Linked DNA regions of Homo sapiens. The protein of the gene in region 1 interacts with the protein of each later gene in a pairwise test. Each region holds a gene or a part of one and is shown in the gene's direction. Other genes may lie near its edges. The genes, in order: TRAF3IP1, SPTBN1, PCNT and WAC.

Region 1 (7,023 bases):
CCTGGAGAGCAAGGCGGGACAGAGAGGGCCTGCCGATCACGGCAGGCACAGGGGCGCAGGTGTTGAGGAGGTGGATCGTGGGCCACAGTGAGGGTGTGCTGGGAGCGTGAGAGACGAGGGACGGGAGCCTGGACTTCCTGGTACTGACAGAGCAGCGGGTTCGAAGTGAGGTTGGTCCTGGCGGAGCCACACAGGTGGTTGTTGAGTGTCTCAAGGACCCAGTTGAGGAAGTCGAGGATGTTTGGGGCAATGGGTGTTATTTTCAGAGGTCGTTCCCAAGTGTCTACATTCCCTCTGGACCTTGTGCATGGCACTGAAGCAAGGGAGGATTTTGGTGTGTGTGTGTGTGTGTGTGTGTGTGTGTGTGCGCGCGCGCGCGTGTGCGTGCATGTGCTTGTGTGTATGCGTGTGTGTGTGTGTGTGTGTGTATGCATGTGCACGCATGCAGCACTGCGATAACGGGGCAGGGGGAGTTAGGTGATTGCTTAAAGCACAAGTGTGTAGGGAAGAAACAAAGGCAGGAGGGGCCATTAAGGAGCCTGTAGAGTGTTTGGGTCGGGGGCTCACATTTGTACAGAGTGAGCTGACAGTGGCCTGAGTGAGGAGGAGTGGGGCAGCTGTAGGTGGGGCAGTTCTAGTAGGTGGCCCTGGAGAGCATGAGAGAGCCCTTGGGTGAAGGCTGTCACCAAGGAGGACAAGGTCTGGGGCTGGAGGGCCAGGCTGTTGGACGCTGACTTGCCCAGAATGATGTGGACTTGGGTGGAGCGCAGTGTGTACGTGGTGCTGAGCGGGACATAGGGCAGCCACTGTGACTAGGAGTTGAATGAGGGGCCTCCAGCTGGCTGTGTGAAGAGAGGTCTGGGGTCAGCCCTGGTCAGTGGGACCCCAATGTGGCCCCTGCCCTGAGGTTTGTGACCCAGGGCAATAAGCGCCTCCAGGTAGAAAGCAGCAGGTGAAGGGCTGGTGTCACTGAGAGCGCAGTCAGGGGAGAGGCGGAGGCCCTGAGGGTCTTTGTGCAGTAGAGGGCATGACGAGGCTGTGGGGACGGGAGGCCAGGTGTGGACCAGGAGGCCTGGGCAGCACAGGGACGTGGGGAAGCTGGGTGGGGGTGGAGGGCGAGGCTCACAGGGACTCAGGCCTGGAGGGCTTGCAGAGGACACTGTTTGCAGACAGTCCATCTTAGCTTCAGCGGGTAGCTTGAGATGCTGTTCTAGCTAGAGATGGTTGGTGATTAGATTCCTCTCTGCCGACCTCTGACACAGTTTCAGATGCTTGGGACTGATGAAAATGTGTAATTCTAATTTAATCTAATTTCTTTTTATTTAGGTCAGGGAGTGGTAAAACCGTTTCAAATGTGATTACAGAGTCACACAATTCTGACAATGAAGAGGATGATCAATTTGTGGTGGAAGCTGCCCCTCAGCTCTCTGAAATGTCAGAAATTGAAATGGTTAGTTAACCGAAATATGATGTTTTTTAATAATAATGTTTTACCTTCATTGAGATTAATAGTCTAGCTTTTAGATTTATGTAGACAAAAATGTCCTGTAATTTTTCAGTTAGTTTTCTACCTTCGTTAATTTTGTTGTTCTTTTTTTGAGATCCACAGAAGCATGATCTTTAAAATTCAACAAGCCTGAATCTTCTTTTTCCCCCTTCCTTTCCTGCTCAGGTAACAGCAGTGGAACTAGAAGAAGAGGAGAAGCATGGTGAGTCCTGGGCACGAGTGTGCATGTATGTCCATGTGTGTGTGCTCATGCACCTTCTCCACGTGGGCCTGGAAGGATCCAGTGCAAGGGACTGTTGTGTGCCAGGTTCTGGTCTGGGTCACACTGGCGGGATCACACTGGTGGTACATAGGACCCTGCGGGCATGGATTACTCTTAAGGCGATGGCTGCTGCTCCCCATCCTTAGAGGAGGGGGAGGGCACAGTTGGAAGCTGGAAACTCACTGGCAACTGTCCTGCAGATGACATCTCGTCTCTTCCGTACGATTAAATTGTGGAAGTAGATGATCTCTGAGGCCCTTTGCAAGTCTAGTTCTGGAATGTTATTGTTGGTTTTCTAGCTGGACAACTCAGTAGTGCAAACCCCGTTCCCCACACCAGGGTTTGAGTATCCTGGAACACAGTTTCTGCAGAAGAGGCAGGCTGAGTACTTTCCTTTATAGATCTGTTCTCACAATATGACTTTGTTTCCTGGCACCTATCACAGGTGAGTAACGAGGGCTTGTTGGTTTTGGGGGTTTGGGGTTTTTTTTGGTATCTATATGAAGCCACCCTTTTTTATTTGAGGCGGAGTCTTGCCCTGTCACCCAGGCTGGAGTTCAGTGGTGCTATCTCAACTTACTGCAACCTCTGCCTCCCGGGTTGAAGTGATTCTCGTGCCTCAGCCTCACAAGTAGCTGGGACTACAGGCGTGCACCACTATGCCTGGCCAATTTTTGTATTTTTAGTAGAGACAGGTTTTCGCTACGTTGGCCAGGCTGGTCTCCAATTTCTAACCTCAAGTGATCCACCCGCCTTGGCCTCCCAAAGTGCTGGGATTACAGGCATGGGCCACTGTGCCCAGCCTAGTCACGGATTTTTAACATAGTGGATGTGTTTCATTTCAGCCCATCTCAGTTTTTCTTATTAATGTTCAGATTGCCCAGTATTTGACCAGGGGAGCCTATTGGAGTTATTTTCTGGGGGCCTTTAGACACATCCCAGTACACTCTTTAGCTTCCTTGTTTTCTGATACGACAAGGTGTTTCCAGCTTATTTTGTGTACTTCCTGCCCCATAACTGCCTCATTTCTCCAAGGCACCTGGCCGCTTACTGCTCTGGGTTGCTTCTTGTTTCCAGGCATTTTCACTGCAAAAGCAGGGATATACTTTTTTAAAATAAGAAAGTATATTCTGACTTAGTGATGATATTTCCAATTCCGATTTAGGATTGTAGGGTTTTGCCTGCATTCTTTGGTTTTATATATGCATCTCTTCCATCTCATGCCAAAAAGCCTGGCTCCCAGCAGCAGCGGCTGTCCCCATGCTTTATGATCCTTCATATGCTCACATAGCAATTTTAGAACACCACGACTGGTTTTTAACAACAATAGGATTACTGGAAACGCTGAAGGATTTTATTTTATTTTATTTTATTTATTTTTATTTATGTATTTATTTTTGACATGGAGTCTCGCCCTGTCGCCCAGGCTGGAGTGCAGTGGCGCGATCTTGGCTCACTGCAACCTCTGCCTCCCGGGGTCAAAAGATTCTCCTGCCTCAGCCTCCTGAGTAACTGGGATTACAGGCGCCCACCACCACACCCAGTTATTTTTTTGTATTTTTAGTAGAGACGGGGTTTCACCATGTTGGCCAGGCTGGTCTCGAACTCCTGACCTTGTGATCGGCCCCCTTGGCCTCCCAAAGCGCTGGTATTACAGGTGTGAGCCACCAAGCCCAGCCCAAGGACTTTTTTTTTTTTGGTAGGTATGTCTGCCTGTTTGTTGGGTATATCCTATTAGGGATGTACAGTCAGTTACCCTGTTTTAAAGTTGTGAAACAATTCTCTAGTGGCGCATGCTTGCCAATTGGATATCACTAAGTTTATTTCATTTTGCATTCAACCTTTAGGCATTAGTGTTGTTTACCTTTTTAATGTAAGATAATTCGCATGATTTTAAGGTCAGATGTACAAAACCAGGTATAATCAGAAATGTGGGGCTTTGACCCGTCTTCTCTACCCTCTACTCTCCCTGTCTCCTCTACCCTCTACTCTCCCTGTCTCCTCTACCCTCTACTCTCCCTCTCCCTGTAGGTAACAGTAAAATAGGGCTTATACTTACATTTGAAAAACAAACAAATAAATAAATGCATATGCATGTGCATGTGTATTTACTGATACCTACACTTATTTCCATCTTGCTCTTTTTAATTTGACAGCAGATGCAGGCTTTCATTTTGCAGCAATGCAGAGAAACCATCCTCATTTCCTTCATAGCCACGTCGTCCTCCACCGTGTGGACGTACCCTCGTTTATTCAGTCAGCCTCGGGCTGATGTATGCTTGGGTGAAACACTATTCCAAAAAACTTCACATGATATTTATCCCATGAGTAAATTCTGAAAGAAGTGGAATAGTCTTGCCCCAGTGTAAAAGAAGTATCCGTACTTAGAAGCATTTCTTGTTATTTCTGTTTGTAATAAATGGCTATATTTTTGGATGTCAATCTACACTCCTTCTTAATCTTTGAAAATAGAAAATCTATTTTATTTCTAAAGCTTTTTACTTTTCAAGGAGCTGATTTCCCTGAAACACTTTGAAATGTGATAATTTCCACTACCAGCTGTCTATCACTCTTGTGTACTATCTCCTTAACAAATAAAGATTATTTGAAACTGTTTCAGCATAAAAAGAGATAGGATAAAAACTTAGTGTTTTTCCCACCATCCCACCCATTTAGAATAGGTTTTTGGGATAGAGAATAAACTTTTAACATAAAATCACTGATTTTTCAACAGGTGGACTTGTGAAAAAAATTTTGGAGACGAAGAAAGATTATGAGAAATTGCAGCAGTCACCCAAACCTGGGGAGAAGGTAATGGAATGATTTCCATAAACACTGGCATTTTAGCAGTCTGTTTCATGCATTTACAGACTTTTACAAGTTGGAGCATCTTTCAATATTACCATTATCAGTGATGTCTGTTTGCATATTTAAATGCCATTCCTGGCCAGGCATGGTGGCTCACGCCTGCAATCCCAGCACCTTGGGAGGCCAGCGCAGACAGCTTACCTGAGCCCAGGAGTTCGAGACCAGCCTGGGCAACATGGTGAAACCCTGTCTTTACAAAAAATACAAAAATTACCCGGGTGTGGTGGCGCATGCCTGTAGTCCCAGCTACTTGGGGGGCTGAGGCAGGAGAATCGCTTGAACCTGGGAGGTGGAGGTTGTAGTGGATTGAGATTGTGCCACGGCACTCCAGCCTGGGCAACGGAGTGAGACCCTGCCTCAGAAAGAAAAAAAAAGCCATTCCTCCCTCCTCCCAGTTGGGAGGATATAAAGTGTGGGACTTCCTCTGTGGGGCTACTTCCCTGGCCTGGTATCCAGCCCCGTCTTGGGAGGGGGCAGCGGCTTACTTGGGGAGCTCAGGAGCCAAGAGCCAAAGGCCTGTTGGGCTCTGACTCCCTGACTCTCCCCTTCTGGCCTTGCCCATCCCTTCTCCCAGGTCCTGTTTGCAGACTGGGAGGCTGGCTGCCTGATCCTGGCTGATTGCAAAGTAAGAGACTGGGAATTTTTTTTTTTTTTTTTTTGAGGTAGAGTCTCGCTCTGTCGCCCAGGCTGGAGAGCAGTGGCATGATCTCGGCTCACTGCAAGCTCCGCCTCCCGGGTTCACGCCATTCTCCTGCCTCAGCCTCCCGTGTAGCTGGGACTACAGGTGCTCGACACTGCTCCTAGCTAATATTTTGTATTTTTAGTAGAGACGGGGTTTTACCGTGTTAGCCAGGATGGTCTCGATCTCCTGACCTCGTGATCCACCCACCTTGGCCTCCCAAAGTGCTGGGATTACAGGCGTGAGCCACCGCGCCTGGCCGGGAATGTTTTTAAGTCTTTTTTTTAAATACATGTTCTATTGTACCTGGTTCCCCGCAGTCTCCCTCACACATGTGTGATGTGCTTTTGTTGGGACCTGTGGCCTCTTGCCAGCCACTACCCTTTCCTTGGGCACATGACCACTAGGGCGGGCACCTGTGGGCCAACAGGGTGTGTCTCAAATGCCACAGCCAGGTTTCTCTTACAGTCACTTTAAAGAGGAAGAAGAATTTTTTTTTTCTTTTAAACAGAAGTTTCTTGGATATTTAGCCTAATAACTCAACAATTTAAAAAAGTTTTATATATAGGGATGTGTGCACACATACGTACACACACATGCACACATATATGTATTTCTCCCCAGCTGAATTAATGGTTGTTTTAGATAATTTTGCTTAACATGTCCTAGTTTGTCACAAAGCTAGGGCCTGAAATAGCCAATGAGAACTGTGCAATTGAGACTAACAGTAGAGGGAGCCCTTTTAACAATAATAACTGGAGAATGTTGTCGGCGGAGGCTTTGCTGACAGCACCACTGTTTGCCTTGCTGAAAGGAGAAATGCCTTCTGCAGTTTGTTTTTTCATTGATGGAATGTTAATACATTATAGTCCTTTCTGTATGCATGAGGGGTTGTCCTGGTGTCCCTGGTGGTATTTCTGAGACCCAGTCGAAAACCCTGAATGTGTCCCTCCAGGCTCCTAGTGGAGGTCACCTTTGAAGCCTCCATTGGTTTCAATTTTATAGCTATGATTTTTACGCAAAGCATATTAGGATTGTGTTTCAAAGTCTCCTTGGAAGAGTAAATTATTTCAGATTGGTAAATCTTTGGGCTTCAGAAGATGAAAGGAAAAGTGTCCTTTTTTGGTAAACATCTGCTGTTTTGAAAAAGAGTGGTCAGTGAGAACTTCAAAGTCAGGGTTGATGTATGTTACAGTTAGGGGAAAATCAGCAAGTGTCTGTATGATTTTCTTTAGGATATTGATAAACATCAGACTTAAATTTAACTTGTTGGTCTTCTTAAAACATTTTTGTTACATTTTTTTTTTTTTTTGAGTCAGAATCTCGCTCTGTTGCCCAGGCTGGAGTGCAGTGGCGCGATCTCGGCTCACTGCAAGCTCCGCCTCCCGGATTCACGCCATTCTCCTGCTACATTTTTTTTTTAAATAAATAAAAATGTGGCCAGGCGCAGTGACTTACACCTGTAATCCCAGCACTTTAGGAAGCCAAGGTGGGCGGATTGCTTGAGGCTATGAGTTTGAGATCATCCTGGCCAACATGGCCAATCCCCTTTCTACTAAGAATGCAAACATTAGCTGGGCATGGTGGTGCACACTTGTAGTCCCAGCTACTCAGGAGGCTGAAGCACAAGAATCGCTTGAGCCCAGGAAGCAGAGGTTGCAGTGAGCTGTGATTGCACTGCTGCACTCCAGCTTGGATGACAGAGCA
Region 2 (7,023 bases), about 180 Mb from region 1:
CTCTCTCTTTTTAATCCCTCTTGGGTAAGTGGTTATGAATAGCGAAAATATGTGAATGTCCTTGGCACTTTGAATCAATAAATGCCTTCTGTTTTGTGTGTATGTACAGAATACTGGGAAAAATTTTGTCATTAAGTTTTACTTTAACTTCTTTTCCCCTAAGATTGAATAGCCATAGTCTTTCAGATTTTAGCTGCCCAGATAACTGGAACATAGATAATTTTTTCCAAGTAGGAAGTGCGTGCCTTTATTGTCTAATAGATCCATGGTCTTTGATGACAAAGGACTTTATGAGATTTGCTAGTTTTTCCCTCAACAAAGAGTGAAATCAAAAATCTCACTACCTTTTGCTTTTAACCCCCTCCCACCCCCGCCCCCTGCCCCATTCCCTGTGTGGTGAATAGCCTGAGAATAGGGACAGTGCCCAAGAGTTCACCCACTTTCAGAGCCAGAGGGCTCCTGTGACCCACGTCGCTCTCCTTGACATCATTTCCAAAAAACAAATCTCGGGGAGCCTTTCCTGGCAGCAGCCCACAGTGGGAGTGGAAGGGCCTTGGAAGTGTTAATTCTGTAAGTACTTCTACTGGTTTTATGTGTCACTTCTAGATCTTTGTTGGTAGAACCATGAAGGATTTAAGGTGCCAATTTGTTGTGACAATAACTGGTGTAAAAGTGGGCTTCTCACGGTCACTCAGGAGAAGGGACATGGTCCCTTCAGTTGGTTACTTCTGATTCCAGGCTGGCTCTGCATTCTTTTGTGTATCTTCAGCCTGGGCAAACAAAAAGCTCTTCCTAGGTTAGCAAAGCAAATGGGGCGGGAATCAGGACTCTGGCATGGCCCTTACAGGCAGGCAGTAATGAGCCAGGGCCGATTCGGGATGGAAGCCAGCAAAAGTGGGTCTGGGCCTGGCGTTTGGCTGACCCCGGTAAGAGAGCTCCTTTCTCAGGTCTGTCAGCGGCCAGCAGCCTTTGTGCGGCTCTCTAGAGTTCAGATCCAAGCAGACATGTTGGGTCTCAAAATCAAGTCCTGTGAAGTGTTCTTGGTGTGAATGAAAGGTTCTTTAGAGAACTAGAGGCTATAGAAAAAGAGGTGAAGGTGACTCAAACTTGAAGGAAACATTGAAAGGGCATGATTGTTGCCTTAGCCCTACAGTGAGCAAGTTATTTATGCCTTTTTGCATTCCCTTCGATGCACCCACAAAAAGGGGGAGGTAATAAATAAGTAGTTTTTTTTTTTTTTTTTTAATAAAAAGAACTAAGAGAGTAAGAAGGATTGCCAAATGGAGTAAAAGTCAATCATGATTAACATGGTATAGCTGACACAGGTATTTGGAAGAGAAAAAGAGTCATGTCTTGGAGTGGTTAGGGTAGAATTTTAAACACGGGCCTTTTGTGGGGAAAGCCAGTTATGAGTGCCAAACAGTTTGAAAACTGGCTTATAGAGCTTTTGTACTTCTGGAATGAATGTTAGATATAGTTTGGAGCAGAGCTCAGGTACAAGCTCCATCTAATGGACACCTGTCATGACGGGTCAGAGTTGTGAAGTTAAATATTTGGTTGTCTGTCACCATGGAAACGTGTGTAGTATGCATAATATGACATAAACACAACCCTTTCCAGGCGGAAAAAAGGCTGATGTCTAGGATCACAATCTCTGAATCCTTCTGATCTTTCTGTAGCTGTCTCTCTGGATCAATGAGAAGATGCTCACAGCCCAGGACATGTCTTACGATGAAGCCAGAAATCTGCACAGTAAATGGTTGAAGCATCAAGCATTTATGGCAGAACTTGCATCCAACAAAGAATGGCTTGACAAAATCGAGAAGGTGAGTTAAAACATTTGATGTGGCCATGGTGAGAAAACAAACAGGGTAGTAATAAACTCCTTTTTATTTAGCACATTTTCCAGCATATCTGATCTTATCTGTACATTTACGTAAGTTACACAGCCAGTAATAGCTCCCTTTGCACGTACGGGTTCCTGACTTCAACCCATCAAAAGGGAAAAAAGCAGAAACCCAACCAGTTAGTAGAAAATGCTTGATTTATCGTAGAACGAATACTAGGCATTTAGTTTCTGTTGTGCCTCTCATCTGCTGTTGCTGATGGACTGTGAGCTCTCATGCAGGGATTCCACTGTCTTGATCATATTATTTGTGTTGTACTGTGACAGATTGCACATAATTTTAAATATATACATATTTTTTAAAATTGCTTTTTCCTATGAGACTACTGTATACCAGGCGCTATAATAATTACTATGATGTGTTATTCTTGCACAGAGAGATTCTGGGCAGCATAACTGAAGATGAATATGGAGTCCCCCCCTTCCCCCCGACTTCTCTCCTTTTAGACTTTTTATAGTGTTTCAGATTCTTCACGGTTAAAATAATGTGTTGGCAGGGCACGGTGGCTCATGCCTGTAATCCCAGCACTTTGGGAGGCCAAGGCAGATGGATCACTGGAGGCCAGGAGTTTCAGACCAGCTTGGCCAACATGGTGAAACCCCATCTCTATGAAGCATACAAAAATAGCCAGGCCTGGTGGTATGTGCCTGTAATCGCAGCTATTGGGGAGGCTGAGGCACGAGCCCAGGAGGCAGAGGTTGCAGTGAGCTGAGATCACGCCACTGTACTTCAGCCTGGGTGATAGAACGAGACTCTGTCTCAATATAATAACAATAATAATAATAATAATAATAATAATAATGTGTTGTATATCATCTTTGGTCATGGAATGGAGGAGATAAAGTCACGTTATTAGCATTCAGTATTCCGTTGCCCCAGTTGAGACTATTTCAGCATGTAACATTTATTGCTTAATTCCCATGAAACCCTTGTAATGTACACAACCTAGGGGTCGTTGTTGATTTTATTGAGCAGTAACTTCATGTGGAAAGACTGTGTGTATTGAGTGAATGGTTAAATCACAGATCAAATGTCCTAGGTTTGTTTTTCACAGTGACATTTTTTCTGTAGCAAACTTGTTTATTTACAACCATGTTGGTTTTGTTTTCCAGGAAGGAATGCAGCTCATTTCAGAAAAGCCTGAGACGGAAGCTGTGGTGAAGGAGAAACTCACTGGTTTACATAAAATGTGGGAAGTCCTTGAATCCACTACCCAGACAAAGGCCCAGCGGCTCTTTGATGCAAACAAGGCCGAACTTTTCACCCAGAGCTGTGCAGATCTAGACAAATGGCTGCACGGCCTGGAGAGTCAGATTCAGTCTGATGACTATGGCAAAGACCTGACCAGTGTCAATATCCTGCTGAAAAAGCAACAGGCAAGTGGACAAGCCATCATGGACTTGGGTGTATTTCTGTTTTACAGCCATAGTCCTTAGAGTCTTTTCTCACCCACTGCATTATCAGGAGTCCACCTTCCATGGGAAGGCATTTTTAACCCAAAATATTACTTGCTCTAACAGCATCGTAGAACATTTCCAGAATAGAAAGACACTTGTCCAAACTAGAAAGACACAGTATTAGGAGTATTGGGTGTTGGCTGTCTGTGTATGGGATTGATAATTTTCTTAGTTAATGGGTATTATCACCGTTTAACAGTTAAATAAATGTTCATCTCATTCAATTCTGCATTTTACACGAAAGAAATATTCTCATACTTTGTTGTTTAACATCGTGATTTGTGACAGTTATCTGAGTTGTTCAAGGCACTTTATAGGTAATAAAAATAACTGTTTATATTATATCACCGTAGAGGGCTTTAAGGGCAAATGAATTTACCTCAGATTTACTTGAAAACAGTTCCATTGATGTTGAAAAGCAAGTCAGTGGCAAAATGTTTGAGTGGCTCCCATGGCTGGCTTTGCGGTGTGGCCAAGTCCCAGGCCCAGCAGTTCTGCTTAGAGCCAGTCACTGCAAAAGATAGTCTGTGCTGAGCGCTGAGGCTGCTTCTCTGCCCTCAGATGCTGGAGAATCAGATGGAAGTGCGGAAGAAGGAGATCGAAGAGCTCCAAAGCCAAGCCCAGGCCCTGAGTCAGGAAGGGAAGAGCACCGACGAGGTAGACAGCAAGCGCCTCACCGTGCAGACCAAGTTCATGGAGTTGCTGGAGCCCTTGAACGAGAGGAAGCATAACCTGCTGGCCTCCAAAGAGATCCATCAGTTCAACAGGGATGTGGAGGACGAGATCGTGAGTCGACCCCTACTGCACACATGGCTTTTCCACGAGCCCCCTTGCCTGTGCTAAAGCCCACATTCTCACTTCTCAGTCATCCTCACCTTGGGCCACGTTGGCAAGCTGAGCTGCCAAAGTCCACGCTCTGGATGGTCTAAAGTTTCTTTCCCTTTTCACCCTAAATGTAACTCCATTGGTCCTCTCACGTTATCTAGGGATACTGTAGGATTTTAATGGCCCTAAAACAGACTTTTTAAAAGTAATGAGGACTCACAGTGAGTTTGACCTTGAGGATGAGGTAGAGTTGGAAAGACTCTCCCTAGCCCTGTCTCGGAGAACAAGGGCGTGCTTCCCCAGACAGCCCTCCCGAGGGGGCTGAGCACTCTCTGAAGCTCACCCTTGCTGTCCCTCACTGCCCCTCACTGCTCGTTTGTGTCGTATATTTGTTCCTCTGAGTGGATCTGACCACTTATTTAAAATTCTTCCCAGTTGTGGGTTGGAGAGAGGATGCCTTTGGCAACTTCCACGGATCATGGCCACAACCTCCAGACTGTGCAGCTGTTAATAAAGAAAAATCAGGTAAGCCTTTCTGCTCGAGCTAGTTCTGTCTGATAAATAATTGCTCTAAATTATGAGACTGGGAATGGCAGAGAGCTTTGAAGCCTTGCTATTTCTTTCTGGCCCTAACAGCTTGACATAAGCAGCAGACGGCTGCCATTTAGCAAGCCTTTGTGTGTATTTTCCGCTCCCTCCAGACCCTCCAGAAAGAAATCCAGGGGCACCAGCCTCGCATTGACGACATCTTTGAGAGGAGCCAAAACATCGTCACTGACAGCAGCAGCCTCAGCGCTGAGGCCATCAGACAGAGGCTTGCCGACCTGAAGCAGCTGTGGGGTCTCCTCATTGAGGAGACAGAGAAACGCCACAGGCGGCTGGAGGAGGCGCACAGGGCCCAGCAGTACTACTTTGACGCTGCTGAGGCCGAAGCCTGGATGAGCGAGCAGGAGCTGTACATGATGTCAGAGGAGAAGGCCAAGGTGAGAGGAGGCGGGAAGCATCCCTGTCCCAGGAGAGCCTCAGATTCAAACCCTGGGCACACTTTCTGCTGGCGGCTCTGTCTGTATAAAAACTTCCCTTGTAGCCTTTGAGTGTTAAGGGGACACCATGTGCATGAAGGTGTCTGAAATCCAGCTGCTGGTTTCCCTTTGGTGCAGCATTTTCTTATCTGAATCCTAGTGTGCCATTAAGAACAGGTTCATCCTTTCATCTTTGAAATATGCCAGAGTCCTTCCTGCTGTCTATTTATAGGTTCCCTAAACTTTACAAAATACAGGATGGCTTGGAGACAATTTGAAAGTATTGCAAGGTTCCAGGAATGCTGCCATTTACATACTTGAGGGACCTTGAGGAATTCCAGCGAACCAGGCACACTTGGTCTGCCCAAGCTTTTCTCTGAGAGGGGCCCTGCTCATTCTGCGTTCTCCTTGTGTTTATCTTCTGCACAGGCTTCTGTGGTCCAGTCCATATGGAAGCTCTTGGAACACTTCTGTGTTCCACTGTCCGTACTGCACCTCTGGAGTTTTTCTTTCTACTGATCCTTCCTCCTACCCTGCTGAGCAGCTGGTCTGTCACTCCTTAAGGGGTAGGGCCAGAGGGGACCGCTATGGTTGTGATGTTCTCCTGTCTTTGCAGGATGAGCAGAGTGCTGTCTCCATGTTGAAGAAGCACCAGATCTTAGAACAAGCTGTGGAGGACTATGCAGAGACCGTGCATCAGCTCTCCAAGACCAGCCGGGCCCTGGTGGCCGACAGCCATCCTGAAAGGTGAGCGCTGCTTCATGAGTGTGAGACCCGGCTCTCGATTCCTCTCAGTTAGGGTCTCTTGCTAACCCCCACCAAAAGAAAATGTCAGCATTCATCATGACTTGCTGGTAAGGCAAATCTTTGAGAAGCATTTTTAAAACAGACCCATCATTTAAAACATCCTATCATGATTAGGATGGGTGAACTGTTATATTAGGAAATTGCTCTTGTGGGTTAAATATCTCCCGTTGGCCAAGGCTCTCCTGAAAGAATATTGGTGTCGTGAGTCAAAAGTACAGGTTGACTAGGCTGGGCAGTCAACGTAAAGTGGCTTACACTTGTAATCCCAGCACTTTACCAAGCCAAGGTGGGAGGATTGCTTGAGCCCAGGGGGCCAAAGACCAATCTCGGCAATGTGGCGAAACCTCATCTCTACAAAAAATACAAAAAATCAGCTGGGTGTGGTGGCACACGTCTGTACTACTCAGCTATTCAAGAGGCTGAGGTTGGGAGGATGGTTTGAGTCCAGGAGTTTGAGTCTACAGTGAACCATGTTCACACTGCTGCACTCCAGCCTGGGTGACAGAGTGAGACCTTGTCTCAAAAAAATAAAAATGATCAGAAGTACAGGTTGACTTGCATGGTGGATACAGATAGTCATAGCACTTACACTTGGGTTGAAAAAGTCATCCAGTTTAGTAAAGTAATTACTAGTTTTAAGAGGAGCATTAGACAAGAATGCATAGACCTGTAAAATGAAGGGGCTCCCAGGAAGAACAAAGTGATAACACCTCCTAACTCTTCGATATCAAGTGATTAGAACACCTTCGAGGAAAAAGAAGAGGTGAGTGTGTGGTACTCATCAGGCCCCTGTATTAACTTCCAAAGCAGTCATTTTAGGATTTTTGTGTAAATGCCTTTTATGACTTGGAAAGGAATTGGCCTTGTGCATTTAACCAGGGCAGGTTAGGGGAGATGAGGTCAGTGGCTCTGTTGGTGTAGGAGGTTCTTAAGATGTTCATGATCAGGATTCCCAGGAAAGTGGCCTTCCTAGTCTCCAGGGATAGGCACCAACATGTCCTTTGT
Region 3 (7,174 bases), on another chromosome or scaffold:
TTGGGAGACATTTAAACAGCTCTGAGTGTGCACAGAACAAAAACCAGGTTAATTTAGTTAAGCAACTGTATAGAGCACCCTTGATATAAGTGACCTCATCTGAGAAAAGGACTCCATCTTATGTATTTTTTTTTGAGATGGAGTTTTGCTCGTTGCCCAGGCTGGAGTGCAGAGGTGGAGCCATCTCAGCTCACTGCAACCTCCGCCTCCCGGGTTCAAGTGATTCTCCTGCCTCAGCCTCCCGAGTAGCTGGGAGTACAGGTGCACGCCACCACGCCCAGTTAATCTTTGTATTTTTGGTAGAGATGGGGTTTCACCATGTTGGCCAGACTGGTCTCGAACTCCTGACCTCAAGTGATCTGCCGTCTTGGCCTCCCAAAGTGCTAGGATTAGAGGTGTGAGCCATAGCACCTGGCCCCTGATGCCTTTTAAATTATAAGATAGGGCCAGGCAGGCGGAAGTTGCAGTGAGCCAAGGTGGCACCACTACTGCACTCCATCCTGGGCAACAAGAGTGTAACTCCACCTCAAAAAAAAAAAAAAAAAAAAAAAAAGGGTATCAGGCCAACAGGGACCAGATGTTTCCTCATCAGTAGATACTGCACCCACCCAGATAAAGACATAAACAAGACACTCTTACTATCAGTCCTTACCAGAGTACTCTATGGCCATGAAAAGAGCAGAACACCACCAGGTCAAAGTGGCCGTTTTACAGACAGTCTTGCTGTCACTTGTGAGAAGCCCTCCACATCTGCTGCTGCAGGCTCTGCCCACATCAGAGATGCTTCCTTGCCAGATTCTCCTTTTCGTTGAACTGGTTAACTTTTTTTCCTCTCCTCTTTCTCTTGATGTGGAATGTTTATAACATTTATGCAGTGGTCAAGTATACTATTATGTATGGTTTGTAATACTGACTGACTTAAGGAGAGACTTGAGCCTGTGTGCCCACAGCTGTGACTGCCAAGTGAATGGGAAGCACTAAGAATTGCCTCCTCGGGATCTCTAGTAGTATACATAACATGCTCCAGAGGGCATGGATTTGTCAGACTTTTTTTTTAAATAGGGTTTTTAAGAACAGTTTTAGATTTAGAGTAATTGAGAAGATAGTACATGGAGATCCCACATACCACATGTGTGGCTTCCCCTCTTATTAACATCTTACCTTAGTGTGCTACATATGTTATATATATATATATTTTTTTTGAGACAGAGTCTCGCTGCGACGCCCAGGCTAGAGTGCAATGGTGCAATCTTGGCTCACTGCAACCTCTGCTTCCCAGTTTCAAGCGATTCTTCTGCCTCAGCCTCTCGAGTAGCTGGGACTACAGGTACGTGCCATCATGCCCAGCTAATTTTTGAGTGAAAGCCAGTGCACCTGGCCCATTTGTTATGATTAATGAACCAATATTGAGACACAAGTAACTGAAGTCCACACTTTGACAGTTTCCTTAGGTTTGCCTCATGTCCCTAATGTGGTATCCATCAGAACACCCCATTACATTGAGTTATGTGTCTTTAGGCTCCTTCTCAGACTTTCCTCGTTTTTGATGACCTTGACAGTTTCGAAGAGTACTGGGCAGATATTTTGAAGAATGTCCCTCAATTAAAATGTGTCTATTATCTCCTGGTTAGACTGGGACTGCAGGTTACAGAAAGGAAGCATCTAGGGGTGAAGTGCCACTGTCACCCCATCACATCAGGGACACACACTGTCACCTCGACTATAACTGTGAGGCTGACCTGCGTCACTTGGCTGAGGTGGAGTCTGCCAGTTTTCTCCACAATAAAGTGGCTCTTTCCCTCCTTTTCTTTATTGCACTCTTTGGGAGGAAGTGGCTATGTGTGGTCTACACTTAAGGAGAGGGGAGTTACGTTTCCCTCCTTGAGGGTGAGTATCTACAAAATTTATCTGGGCAGCTTTTTTTTTTTTTTTTTTTTGAGTTAGGGTCTCAGTCTGTCACCCAGGTTGGAGTGCAGTGGTTGCCTGGCCTTGACAGCTTTTTAATAGTTTAAAATGAATTGAGGCTGGGCGAGGTTGCTCATGCCTGTAACTCCAGCACTTTGAGAGGCCAAGGCAGGTGGATCACTTGAGCCCAGGAGTTCAAGACCAGCCTGGGCAACACAGTGAGACCCTGTGTCTACTAAAAATACAAAAATTAGCTGGGCATGGTGGTGTGCCTGTAATTCCAGCTGCTCAGGAGGCTGACATGGAGAATCACCTGAGCCCGGGGAAGTTGAGGCTGCAATGAGCGGTGGTCTCACCACTGCACTCTAGCCTGTGTGACAGACTGAGACCCTGCCTATAAAAAAGAAAAGAAAAAAGAACTGAAATAAGACCCAAGTCCAACATTAGCAGAACCTCTCTAGGATGTCCACAGAAACGACTCTGGGGTTCTGAGGAACACAGTCTAGGCAAACCTGGGCACATCCCCTCAGTCCCACAGTTGTAAATGTATTGTAACACGTAACAGTTGTGAGATTCAGGCGCGGTCTGGGTCTCTGTTCCTGGAAAGTGTGATCCTGTGGGTGCAGCCCCTGCTCGCTTGGCTGTGTTGCCTGCCTGGCCCCTGCTCTAATGAGCCCACTGCCCAGAGTTTGCTCAAACCACCCAATTCCGAGTCTGGGAACCAGGAGACCGCTGGACACCCCGCTCACCACACAGAAGACTGTGGCCTGAGTCAGGAGAAGGAAGTTTCTGGCGGTCGAGCTTCCACGGCTTCCTGAGGGAGGTTGCAGGGAGCCGAGATCGCGCCATTGCGCTATAGCCTGGGCGTCGCAGCGAGACTGTCTCAAAAAAAGAAAAAAAATTCTGAGCGAGATTCCAGGGCTTCCTGAGGGCGCGTTTAAGTTGCAGTTGCTGAGGAGGCTGCAAGGTGAGCTTGCGTCAGCGAGGAGCCACTCCAGCACGCTCGGGAAGGGCATCGTTACTGCTGCAAACAAGCACACGGCCCTCCACGACGAACCTTTTGCAAGTGAAGGCGCACGAACAGGCCCGGAGGACTACAAAGAAACCCAGAAACCAGACTTGGACACATGAAATAAAGGGGTTAGCTGAAGGAATACTCCACAGTTAAGGACGGCCTGCGCGAGGTCACCGGCCCTGTCTTGGTTTTTTGCCACTTCGCTCCAGTTAGTTTCCCAAGTTCCACCTACGCGCGCGCCAGCTGAGAAAACGCCCACCCCGGCGGTCCCGCCACAGGTCACAGGCGGTGCGGACCCCGGGACTGTGTCCGGGCTTCGGTGTCCAGAGAGCTCCAAGACACCCAAACCTTCCGTGGTTTCCACCTCTGCAAGCTTATGTTCCGCTGAGCTCAAGCTGAGGGACGACGACCTCATGCGACGTCAGTTTCCCCCTGGGACCACGAACCCACGGCCCCATTTCTCTTCTGTCTACTAAAAACCTTTTCTTTTCTTTTTTTTTTGAGACCTAAGACATCAGTGAGACACACGAGCAGACACGGGCTCGGTCGGGAAAGGCGGGAGCTCCAAGCGGCGGGGCCTGCAGGTCCAGGCGGTTCGCGGGCTTTCTGACCGCATTCGGCCGAGTTCTTCTCTGAAGACCCAGGACCCCCGGCCGAGGGGGCGCATTCGGCGGGCTGGTGGCGTAGGATTTTGTTTCGGGTTCCCAGGGTCCCGGCAAGGGTGAGGGAGCCCTTGCGGATCCCCTGAGATCCACCTCAGCAGCCTCCTCCGTGGTAGGCCTCAACTTCCCGCGGCGGCCCACAGCCAACGACTAATGCCTGAGCGGGAGAAAACGGCCTGGCCCTGTCCGGGTGGTTGCTGAGCACCGTTCGGCGCCGCCCGCGCCTGCAGGGAGCCCGGCCCGCTGTCCTGGTGGACACAAAGCCCAGGGGCCGCCCGCGCGGGACCAGCAGCGCGAACTTTTTGCCGCTCGGCCAGCCTGGCAGGGGATTTTAAAATCGGCCAATCACAGCGGGCGCCAGGCCTCCGCTTTCCGCTTACTGGTCCTGCCGTAGGAGGCGGGTACGTGAGCGCACCAATCTGTGGCCGGCGAGCGTAAAGGGCGGGGCTCCGCCCAGGCTGCACCGCCCAGAGCGCGCGTGCGCGAGACCGGAAACGCAGCCCCCTGATTGGCGGCGCGTGTCGGGGGCGGGGCCGCGGCTGCGTGACAGTTGTCGCGGGGGGAGGGCGAGCCCAAGCGCGGGGGAGGGAGTGTAAATAGAGCGAAGGCTGCTCTGTGTCAGCCCCGTCACCGCCGGGCGGCCCGCGCGGAGTCTGAGGGAGATGGAAGTTGAGCAAGAGCAGCGGCGCAGAAAGGTGGAGGCCGGGAGGACGAAGGTAAACATTAGGGGCTTCTTCTCTAGCTGCTCTGGCGTGAAGTCCTAAGGGCGGCTCCGGTGCCCGCCACCGCCCCCTGCCAGGAGAGGACGCGGTCCGGCGGAAGCCGCCGCGGAGGTCTCGCTTTTTCCCGCCGGCTCCGCTGGAAGCCGCCTCCTGGCCGCCGCCATCTTGAATCCGCCGCTCTCCGCCAGGTCCCGCCCCCGCCGCGGCCACAGCCAATCAGCGGCCGGGACGCGCGGCGCCTCTCGGGCGGGCCGGGGCGGGGCTGCGCCTGCGTCGGGGGGGGTGGGGCGCGGGCTGGGCGCGGTGCACGCCGGGGCGGGGTGTGGCTGCAGGGCGGGGCTACAGGGGCGTGGCGTGGCTGCACGGAGGGGGTGGGGCGCGGCAGGCGCTGGACCCCAGGCTGGATCTTCCAGTGGCTCCCGCGTCCTCCGGGACCGGGTGGCCTGGGGCGGGCGGCCGGTATTCGGGTGGCTGCTTGGTCTAGGGCCAGTTTCCTGCGCGGCCGGGGCCGGGGGCGTGGCGCGGGTGGCCTGCAGCGCCTCCCCAGGGTGCGCCTTCGCCTCGTCCGTCGGAGATGCTTTCCCCGCGCGTTTCTCGCGGCGTTGCAGTCCTTACTGTGTGAAAGGCCCCCGCGGCGCTCCCGGCCGCCGTCTTCTTCCCGCGCCCTTGGGCTCGCGTCCTGCCCGTCCGGGCCTGGCGTACGCTGCCGGGAACCCACGCGGCGCTGGCGCCGGGCGCCTTCAAGGGACGCGCTCCCGTCTTTCTCCCGCCCCGGGTTTCTCCGTGAAAAAGCGCTCGGTTTGATGGCCACTGTCCTAGGTTTCGTGGGAATAAAGCGCGCAGAGCCCATGACTCGGGGGCAGGAGAAAGGGAGTCCCGAAAGCGCGAGGCGGAACCGCGGGAGCAGGCCGGCCTCTGCGAGGTGCGCGCCGCTCCCCCCCAGGATGTTCTGGCTGGGGTGCTGGGGAAGAGCGGGGCTCCCGGGCACGGCGGACAGGGGACGCGGGGCTAGGCCGGGGAAGGGCTGAGGCGGGCAGGAGGGGAAGGGGAGCCCGGAGCCTGCAGGGAGCTGCGAACAGGAGCAGAGCTCCCAGGAGGGTGGAGGGGGGAGGGAGGGACAAGACGCCGCCTGTAGGGCGACGCAGGCCGCAGACCAGGTCTGTGCTATATCCCGACATGGATAGGTGTGGTGGAGGAGGACATGAAAATAAACGACATGAGGTTGACTTTGAAGGAAATATTTCCTTGAGAGACCATTTTCTTGTGTAAATGGCCTTGTGTAATTTTTCTGGGTCCATGAGCTTGTGTACTTGTGTTATCATTTACACAAATGTGTGTTCCATGCGTTTGTTTTTGTGGCCACAGTTGTCTTTTGAGGGAACAGATGTCTCCCCGTGAAAGGCTGATGTGGGATCGATCGCATACCTCTTGAGTAAGACGTTAGCGGGAGATGAGGCTCGCACATAGTCTCAAACTCTCGGATTTGAGGACTGAGCAGAGCTAGGCTGTGCCTTCTGATGGGCGATGCTCTGTGGATGTCCCTGGTGCTTTGGTGAGCTGTGTCATGAAAAATAGAACATCTGATTCCATAAAGGAAGATGTGAGATTGACCTGGCTTAATTAATTTTTTGCTATTTCTGTATCTTGTCTCAGAATCTATGGCTAGGAAGTTTTGGCTGGGCTATATATTTCTTCAGTTGGGGGAAAATTGGGGCAAGAAGGGAGAGATTTAGCTTTTATATCATTTTAAAACTTAAATATGCCTTGATTAAGCTATCAATCTTTTATACAAATTTTTTTTAAAGTTTTATTTTTCTGTAAACTGCCAAGGGCTAGGAAAGCTATTCTGCCAATCAGCCGTATGGTTTTCTTTACCAGGCATAATTAGCAGTCCTCATTGTTAGACCCCTTGGATATAGATATTGATGAAGGCAGTGTTTGTGGAGAGCCATCTGTTGGCCAGGTGTGGCAGAGTAGACTGGGTCAGCCCTCGGGCCTCATGGTCCCCACCAGTCTGTTGACTTTGTGGTTCTGTTATTTTTTTCTCACTTACCTTTGCCTTTACTACTTATCTACATTTTTGCGCAGCTTGCTCACTTCCGACAGAGAAAAACAAAAGGTGACAGTTCGCATTCGGAGAAAAAGACGGCGAAGAGGAAGGGCTCGGCTGTCGATGCGTCTGTCCAGGAGGAGAGTCCGGTAACCAAGGAGGACAGCGCACTCTGTGGAGGAGGGGACATTTGCAAAAGCACATCATGTGACGACACCCCTGATGGGGCAGGAGGGGCCTTTGCAGCTCAGGTAGATTTGCTCAATGTTGTATTTGAACATTTCGCTTATCTTCTAGTGATTTCTAGTGTGATTTACTAAAGATGGTCTTTGGTCTGTTTTTGCCTTTCAAAAGTGAGGAAAGAGGGTGTTATTTTAGTTTATAAAAAGTGAGGGCCGGGTGCAGTGGCTTACGCCTGTAATCCCCGCACTTTGGGAGGCCGAGGCAGGCGGATCACCTGAGGTCAGGAGTTCCAGACCAGCCTGGCCAACATGGAGAAACCCTGTCTATACTAAAAATACAAAAATTAGCCGGACATCTGGCGCACACCTGTAATCCCAGCTACTCGGGAGGTTGAGGGAGGAGAATAGCTTCAACTTGTGAGGCAGAGGTTGCATTGAGCCGAGATCACGCCAATGCACTCCAGACTGGGTGACAGAGCGAGACTCTCTCTCAAAAAAAAAAAAACAGTGAGTAAATTTTTATGGTTTTATTCTTTTTATTTTATTTTTTATTTTTTTGAGATGGATTCTCGCTCTGTCTCCCAGGCTGGAGTGCAGTGGCGCGATCTCGGCTCACTGCAAGCTCCGCCTCCCGGGTT
Region 4 (6,994 bases), on another chromosome or scaffold:
GTGAGGGTGTGAGCCAAGCAAGTACTAAGGGGGAAGAGGATTCCAGGCAAAGGGACAGCAGTGCAAAGGTCCTGAGGCAGAGGCATGCTTGGTATACTGGAGAAAACAGGGAGGGAGGGTAGAATGGTGGGAAAAGAATGAGAAAGCAGGGCTGAGCGCGGTGGCTCACGCCTGTAATCCCAGCACTTTGGGAGGCTGAGGTGGGTGGATCACGAGGTCAAGAGATGGAGACCATCCTGGCCAACATGGTGAAACCCCGTCTCTACTAAAAATACAAAAATTAGCTGGGTGTGGTGGCACGTGCCTGTAGTCCCAGCTACTCAGGAGGCTGAGGCAGGAGCATTGCTTGAACCTGGGAGGCAGAGGTTGCAGTGAGCCAAGATCATCCCACTGCACTCCAGCCTGGCGACAGTGAGAATCAGTCTCAAACAAAAACAAAAACAAAAACAAAAAAAGAGCAAATAAAGAAGTCAGTGGATAAGAAGCCAGAAGTAACAGGCAGTTTACATATGGCCTAGTGGATCATGGCTATAACTTTGGCTTTTATTCAAGATTGGAATATTATCTGACTTTTTAAGGGATTACTGCACTGTATGAGACAGCAAACAATGTGGAAGCAGGCATAGAAGGGCAAGATCAGTTAGAAAGCCTTTGCCACGGTCCAGGTTTAATGATGGTGGCTTGGACCAGAGTGAACTTGCTGGAGGTGGGTTACAGAGATCAGATTGTGGATACATTTTGAAGGTAATGCTGGCAAAATTTGTTGATGGAGTCAATGTGAGATATAAAACAATCAAAGATGACTCCAAAGTTTTTAGCCTCCACTAGAAGAATGGAGTTGTCATTTCAAGAGATTGGGAAGATCTCAGCAGGACTTGTTTGGGGTGGGGGGAGATTAAGAGTTTCGTTTTGAATACATTAAGTTTGTGATGCCTGTTAGAAACTCAAGCAGTGCTATACAGTAGGCAGTTAAGTGTGAGTCTTGTGTTCAGAGGAAAGGTGTGGACTGGAAATTCAAATGTGGGTTTCATCCAGCCAGAGATCTGAATGAGATTGCCTAGGGAGAGAGAACAGAGGAGTGCGGGTTGTAAGATTTGAATCTCACGCCACTCCAGCATTTAGAGGCTGGAAAAGAAGGAGAAACCAGTAAGGAGTCTAAGGAACAGCCATTTGGGAAGGAAGAGAAGCAAGAAAGAAAATGAAATCCTGGTAGGCAAGATAAGGAACTTTAAGGAGAAGAAAGTTATCAGCTGTGTCAAATGCTGCTGACAAGTGGAGATGAAGACTGAGAAATAAAAATCAGACTTGAAAACATGGATGCTACAGATGATCTTGAACAGGTCCAGAAGTGTGGGAATGAAGTCTGTGGGTTCGAGAGAGAAGTAAAGATAAAGTATTTCTGTAAAGGAGAGCAGATCAGACTTTTGATAATGTGGTTTTATTTAGAGACAGTGTCTCACTGTCACCCAGACTGGAGTGCAGTGGCAAGATCTTGGCTCACCACAACCTCCGCCTCCCAGGCCCAAGTGATTCTCCTGCCTCAGTCTCCCGAATAACTGGGATTACAGGCGCACACCACCACACCTGGCTAACTTTTATATTTTTAGTACAGATGGGGTTTCAAAATGTTGGCCAGGCTAGTCTCAAACTCCAGACCTCAAAATGATCCACCTGACTTGGCCTCCCAAGGTGCTGGGATTACAGGCATGACCCACTGCATCCGGCCTATTTACTTTTTGAGACAGGGTCTCCCTCTGTCGTCCAGGCTGGAGTGCACTGGTGTGATCATGACTCACTGCAGTCTCGAACTCCTGGACTAAAGTGATTGTTCAGCTTCAGCCTCTGGGAGTAGCTAGGAATACAGGCATGCATCACCATGCCTGGCTACTTTTGAGCAAATGGTTTATACCAATTTCAGCAGACATCTAGTTATCAAACAAATTAGTAGTAATTTTGCTGCCAGTTTTCAAAGTTTCTATGAAATGTTATTTGTTGTACTCCTCTGATGTTTGTCTTCAATGGATTCACTACAAATATGTCAGAAATTACATGTTAAGATGCTACCGAATTTTTTTGTTTTCATAATTTCAGTCACTGTCAATTTTTTTTTTTAGTTACTGGTAGTTTAAGAGAGCATTAAATAGGCTTTTTATTGGTCTGCACATCTCCACAAACAGCAATAAGCTCTACATCTGGCAGATGGATGTGACAAATAAGATTATGTAATTAAAATTTTTTTTCCAACCAGTTGTGATTTCAGAGCCTTTCTCCCTACATCATTCCATCTCTCCATTCTATTAGGTCTAGCAATAACGTAACTTCTTGGATACCAAGTAAATCAGTTACTTTTTATTTTTTGGAGGGGGTTGTTTCTTCTGACTTGTTTACTATTTGCCTCTTCTGTGTTAATCACCTAATTATGTTTACCACAATTCTTTTCATTAAACTATGTTGCCTTACAAATAGTGCAAAAAAAAAAAAAAAAGTCAACCAATCACCCGAATACCACCACTCTCAACTAACGGTTGTTTGGTATACTTCACGTTTCTTCTCTCAATGTACCTGCAGCAGTACATAAAATCAAATTTGTAGCAATTTCACTTAACACACCTGAGAACTTTCACATGAATTTTCTTTCACCAATGGACTTCAGCGAGGAAGAAACAGAGGAGGGAAAAGTGAGAGATAAAGAGAGGGTGGGCAGGGCACCGCTGGGTATGGAAAACGTTAGAAAGGGATGGAAAACGTTAGAAAGGGGTGAAAAGCCGAGCGCAGTGGCTCACGCCTGTAATCCCAGCACTTTGGGAGGCCGAGGCGGGAGGATCGCTTCAGGCCAGGGGTTCGAGACCAGCCTGGGTAACACAGCGAGACCCTATCTCCGGAAAAACTTTTTTTAAAAAATTAGCCGGGTGTGGTGGTGCATGCCCGTGGTGCCAGCTACTTAGAGGGCTGAGGTGGGATGACCCGTAAGCCCCGGAGGTCGAGGCTGCAGTGAGCCGTGATCGCGTCACTGCACTCAGACTGGACGACAGCGCGAGACCTGTCTCAAAAAAAAATAACAAGGGGTAGGGTGGGGCAGTGAGATGGTTCAGCGTTGTTCCCAAGGAACTCATCTCCCTAAATTTCCAGTCTCAAGCGCCGCTTTCATTCCCTGCCCCGAGCGGCGCTCCCCGCTCCGTGCACGCATCTCCGCTGAGGGCCGCCCTGACGCACGGCCTTCTGCCTTGAACACAGAACCCCTCAGCCCTTCCTATTAGCCGTTTCTGGCCGGGACTGCACGCGCTCCTTCCTGCCTCGGGGCGCAGGGTGAGACTTACGTCTAAAGGGCGCCCGGCGAGCTCGCAGCAGCCCCTGCCCCGCGGAGGGCCGGTGGCGCGCGGCGTCCGGTGAGGGGCAGCGGCCCGGGCTCGGTTCCGGCTTCCAGCAGCGGCCCGAAGGCGCCGGAGCACGCTCCCCGCTCCCCAGAACGCAGCTTCCGCGGCTGCAGCCCAGGCAGCTCTTCGGGAAGCGTCCGCCCGTGGTCTCGCCAGGGGGTTTCCGACCTCCCCGCCCGACAGCGCAGGGGCGGGGGCCGCGGCCGGAGAGCTCGCCCGAGAGCACCCCCTCCCGCTGCGCCTCTGGGCGCACGCGCAGCCGCTGCAGCCTCCCTTATTTAGTCCGCGATGGCTTCCCTCGCGCCCCACCGTCCTCTTCCGGAAGGCGGCTCCCTCCCTGCGCAGCCCGGAGCCCCTGAGATCAGCCTCGAGCAGGCGCCCGAGCGAGACTATCCCTAAACGGGAACGGCGGTGGCCGACTCGCGAGTGAGGAAAAGAAGGAAAGGGCAGACTGGTCGCGAAGAGAAGATCCAGGCCTCAGAGGAGGAGAAAGGCCGGAGCCAGCCGAGGTTTGCCGAGGGCGGTGTTCCGGACCCGCGCGGTGCGGGGAGGAAGGCCGAGGGTGGGAGAGGAGGGGCCCGGCGGAAACTGCCGAGGTTTCCCGAAGGCGGCAGCGTCCGAGTTGCCCGGATGTAGTTGGTGGAGCGGCAGCGGCGGCACCAGCGGCGGCGGCGGCGGCGGGAGGAGGAGGAGGAGAAGAAGGACCAGGCGGCGGCAGCAGCGGCGGCGGCGGGGGGAGGAGGGGAGGAGGCGGCGGAGCAGGAGGAGGAGAAGGCGGAGGAGGCAGTCGCTCTCCGCGGGGCTGAGCCGGACGCGTCGTCTTGCCCCCCTCCCCCCGGTTCGCGGTGCCGCCGTGTAGTTGGCGCCGCTGCCCCGGCTGAGAGTGAGCGTGGTGTCGACGGAGGGAGATGGCCCGGGAGCGCCGGCGCCAGTAACTGGGAGCTGATGAGAGTCGCCGAGGGCGCGCCGGGCCCAGGTGCCGGGGCTGCCCGCCGCCCGCCGCCGCCGCCGCCTGCGCGCCCGCCCGCCTTTCGCGGCCGCTCTCCCCCCTCCCCGACACACACTCACAGGCCGGGCATTGATGGTAATGTATGCGAGGAAACAGCAGAGACTCAGTGATGGGTAAATTGTCTTTTCGTTTCGGGCCGGGCGGCGGCGGGGGGCGGCGGCGGGGGGGCTGTTCCTCCTTATCTGGAGCTGGCCGGGCCGCCATTTTTGTTGTTAACCCTGATCCGGATCGGGTTGGGGAGGAGGAGCGGCCGCGCGGGCGGGCGGGCGGGAACGCAGTGTGGCGGGGAGCGGGGGCCCGGCTTCGCGGCATTTCGCCCTCTCCGGCCCTTCCGGAGGCTCCGGGTTTGTGCCGTGTGCGTGCGGGGCTCGGCGCTGGGGCGCTCGGTAGGTCTCCCGCGGGGAGGGGCGGCGGGGGCCCCGTTTTCTTCCTCCCCGGCCCCCCACCCGCGCCGTGTCTTATGTCGCTGCCTTCTCTTCCTGTTTTTCAGCTGTCACGACCGGAGGGGGGACTCGCAGCCTTACCAGGTACCAGCCGAGGCCGGGGTGGAGGGATTGGAAGGGGCCGGAGGGGGAAGGGAGGGACTGCTACTCGAGCGCAGGCCTCAGAAGTCGATACAGGCCCTTCGGTGCAACACATCTGAAACTAGCACCGCGGATCCCCTTAAAATTCCAGGTTTGGTTCCTTTAGCGCTCTCCAGCAAGGTTTAGTGACTTATTTTGACAGGTGACTGGAGGGAGTTCGCTGATTTAGGAAAAAAGAATCATTTGCAGCCAGAAAGACCTGACTCGATTATTTGATTATTTGCGAGTGAAGGAATCGATGGGATGAGATGATAGGTGACTTACGAGGCTTATTTATTTATTTATTGTGTTGGGGGAACTGAAAAGTTAATGTAAAGGTATTAAAATTAAGTGAAGAACTTGGGTAAATAGCTAAATGACTTACAACTTTCAAGTCGGTTATAAAGTACTACCCTTTCCCCTTTTAATATTTTTGGTATACTTAATTGCCTTACAAGTAAAAGATATGTGTGCTTTTGTTTCTGTAAGAATTGAGGTCTTTGGGTACTTGGATAATCATTCTGATGTAGGTGGTTCTAGGTAGGTGGGTTCCTTTTTGTTACTGCAGTCATTGTGTGTGAAGTTCTAAGGATTATGATGAAAGTGGCCCCAATTTTCAGGAGGGAAACCTCATAATGATTGTTAACCATCAGATGACTGCAGAAAACACTTTCTACATCTTAAAGGACTAGAGAGCAGGTTTCTAACCTGATGGTTGTGTTATACAGCTGAATTTGAAAACACTGTCTTCTGATATGTAAAACATTGGATATGTCAAAAATTAAACTTTACTGAATCTGTCCTCCAAAGCATAGCTGATTACACATTGCAACAGATTAGTACATCATGATTGTCTTAAGATATGTGTTAGAATAAAGCTAAACGATTATTTTGAGCGCATTATGCTTAGTTAGAAATAGTACTCACATTAGTTTATTTTGGTTAGTATTTTTATACCTTAAAATTGTTTCCCACACCTGGGAGAGTAAGGAAGTTAGGTCTGAAATGCTTTATTTGAATCAAAGAATTGGAGAAACTGGTGTGTGGGTTTTTTTTTTTTTTTTTGGTAGGTTTGCAAAAATATGCATGTGCTTATTTATACATGTGTTTGTGTATATCAGCTGTAGAGCAGAAATTGATTATAGTAGTACTGAATTTCTAGTTTTCTTTTGACTATCAAAAAATGATTCTAAATATTCTCAGCCAAATTTTTTTATTTTTTGCAGAATCAGTGTGCAAGGTGGTTTATAAGATAATGGAGTGGGTTTTTTTTGTGTTTAGTGTGATTTGTTATCAGGAGTCTTATTGTAACGCTTAAGCATTAGGTTTTTTGTCTGAGAAACTTTAAAGAGTAAAGCAGAATTGAAAGTGGAAATTTTAATTTTGTAAGTTCATAAAATTTAATGATAATACACCAAAGTTTATGTTTAAATTAGGGAGTTTAAGGTTTCAATTCTTTCTCTCTTTTTTTGGGGGGGTGATGTTTTACAGGCACTTAAGTATTCATCGAAGAGTCACCCCAGTAGCGGTGATCACAGACATGAAAAGATGCGAGACGCCGGAGATCCTTCACCACCAAATAAAATGTTGCGGAGATCTGATAGTCCTGAAAACAAATACAGTGACAGCACAGGTCACAGTAAGGCCAAAAATGTGCATACTCACAGAGTTAGAGAGAGGGATGGTGGTGAGTATCTTTCTTGTTGAAACTTTGACATACAGTTTTAACAATAGCTCTATATAAAAGGCGGCAGTAGTATTTCTAGCTTGAAGAAGTTACTGTTCAGTTATGTCATTAAAATATTTTAATCCTATCATTTTTTTTTTACTCTGAACAAGTTACTGTAGAAACAAGATGCTGATGTGAGCATCTAAAAAGTGGACTCTTAAGGCCAGGCGCGGTGGCTCACGCCTGTAATCTCAGCACTTGGGAGGCCGAGGCGGGCAGATCACCTGAGGTCAGGAGTTCAAGACCAGCCTGGCCAGCAGGTGAAAACCCATCTCTACTAAAAATACAAAAGTTAGTTGGGCATGGTGGTGGTGGCAGG

What was found.
Region 2: the proteins of TRAF3IP1 (region 1) and SPTBN1 interact in a two-hybrid assay, tested with the Homo sapiens proteins (2 studies listed by BioGRID and IntAct).
Region 3: the proteins of TRAF3IP1 (region 1) and PCNT interact in a two-hybrid assay, tested with the Homo sapiens proteins (2 studies listed by BioGRID and IntAct).
Region 4: the proteins of TRAF3IP1 (region 1) and WAC interact in a two-hybrid assay, tested with the Homo sapiens proteins (2 studies listed by BioGRID and IntAct).

Annotation. Positions count from the first base shown.
Region 1 is NC_000002.12:238,351,501-238,358,523, forward strand, and holds part of TRAF3IP1 (TRAF3-interacting protein 1), read left to right. Parts: intron 1-1,326; coding exon 1,327-1,450; intron 1,451-1,672; coding exon 1,673-1,709; intron 1,710-4,503; coding exon 4,504-4,580; intron 4,581-7,023.
Region 2 is NC_000002.12:54,641,304-54,648,326, forward strand, and holds part of SPTBN1 (spectrin beta chain, non-erythrocytic 1), read left to right. Parts: intron 1-1,679; coding exon 1,680-1,826; intron 1,827-3,019; coding exon 3,020-3,283; intron 3,284-3,925; coding exon 3,926-4,150; intron 4,151-4,624; coding exon 4,625-4,714; intron 4,715-4,890; coding exon 4,891-5,172; intron 5,173-5,827; coding exon 5,828-5,958; intron 5,959-7,023. UniProt on the Homo sapiens protein: Fodrin, which seems to be involved in secretion, interacts with calmodulin in a calcium-dependent manner and is thus candidate for the calcium-dependent movement of the cytoskeleton at the membrane.
Region 3 is NC_000021.9:46,319,985-46,327,158, forward strand, and holds the start of PCNT (pericentrin), read left to right. Parts: upstream 1-4,171; 5' UTR 4,172-4,244; coding exon 4,245-4,298; intron 4,299-4,682; exon of another isoform or gene 4,683-5,226; intron 5,227-6,303; coding exon of another isoform or gene 6,304-6,392; coding exon 6,393-6,605; intron 6,606-7,174. Other genes in the region: uncharacterized protein C21orf58, read right to left, coding at 2,655-2,754; uncharacterized LOC128092249, read left to right, coding at 6,304-6,507. UniProt on the Homo sapiens protein: Integral component of the filamentous matrix of the centrosome involved in the initial establishment of organized microtubule arrays in both mitosis and meiosis. Plays a role, together with DISC1, in the microtubule network formation.
Region 4 is NC_000010.11:28,529,125-28,536,118, forward strand, and holds the start of WAC (WW domain-containing adapter protein with coiled-coil), read left to right. Parts: upstream 1-3,993; 5' UTR 3,994-4,319; coding exon of another isoform or gene 4,320-4,455; coding exon 4,456-4,496; intron 4,497-4,873; coding exon 4,874-4,910; coding exon of another isoform or gene 4,911-5,058; intron 5,059-5,109; exon of another isoform or gene 5,110-5,222; intron 5,223-6,419; coding exon of another isoform or gene 6,420-6,437; coding exon 6,438-6,633; intron 6,634-6,994.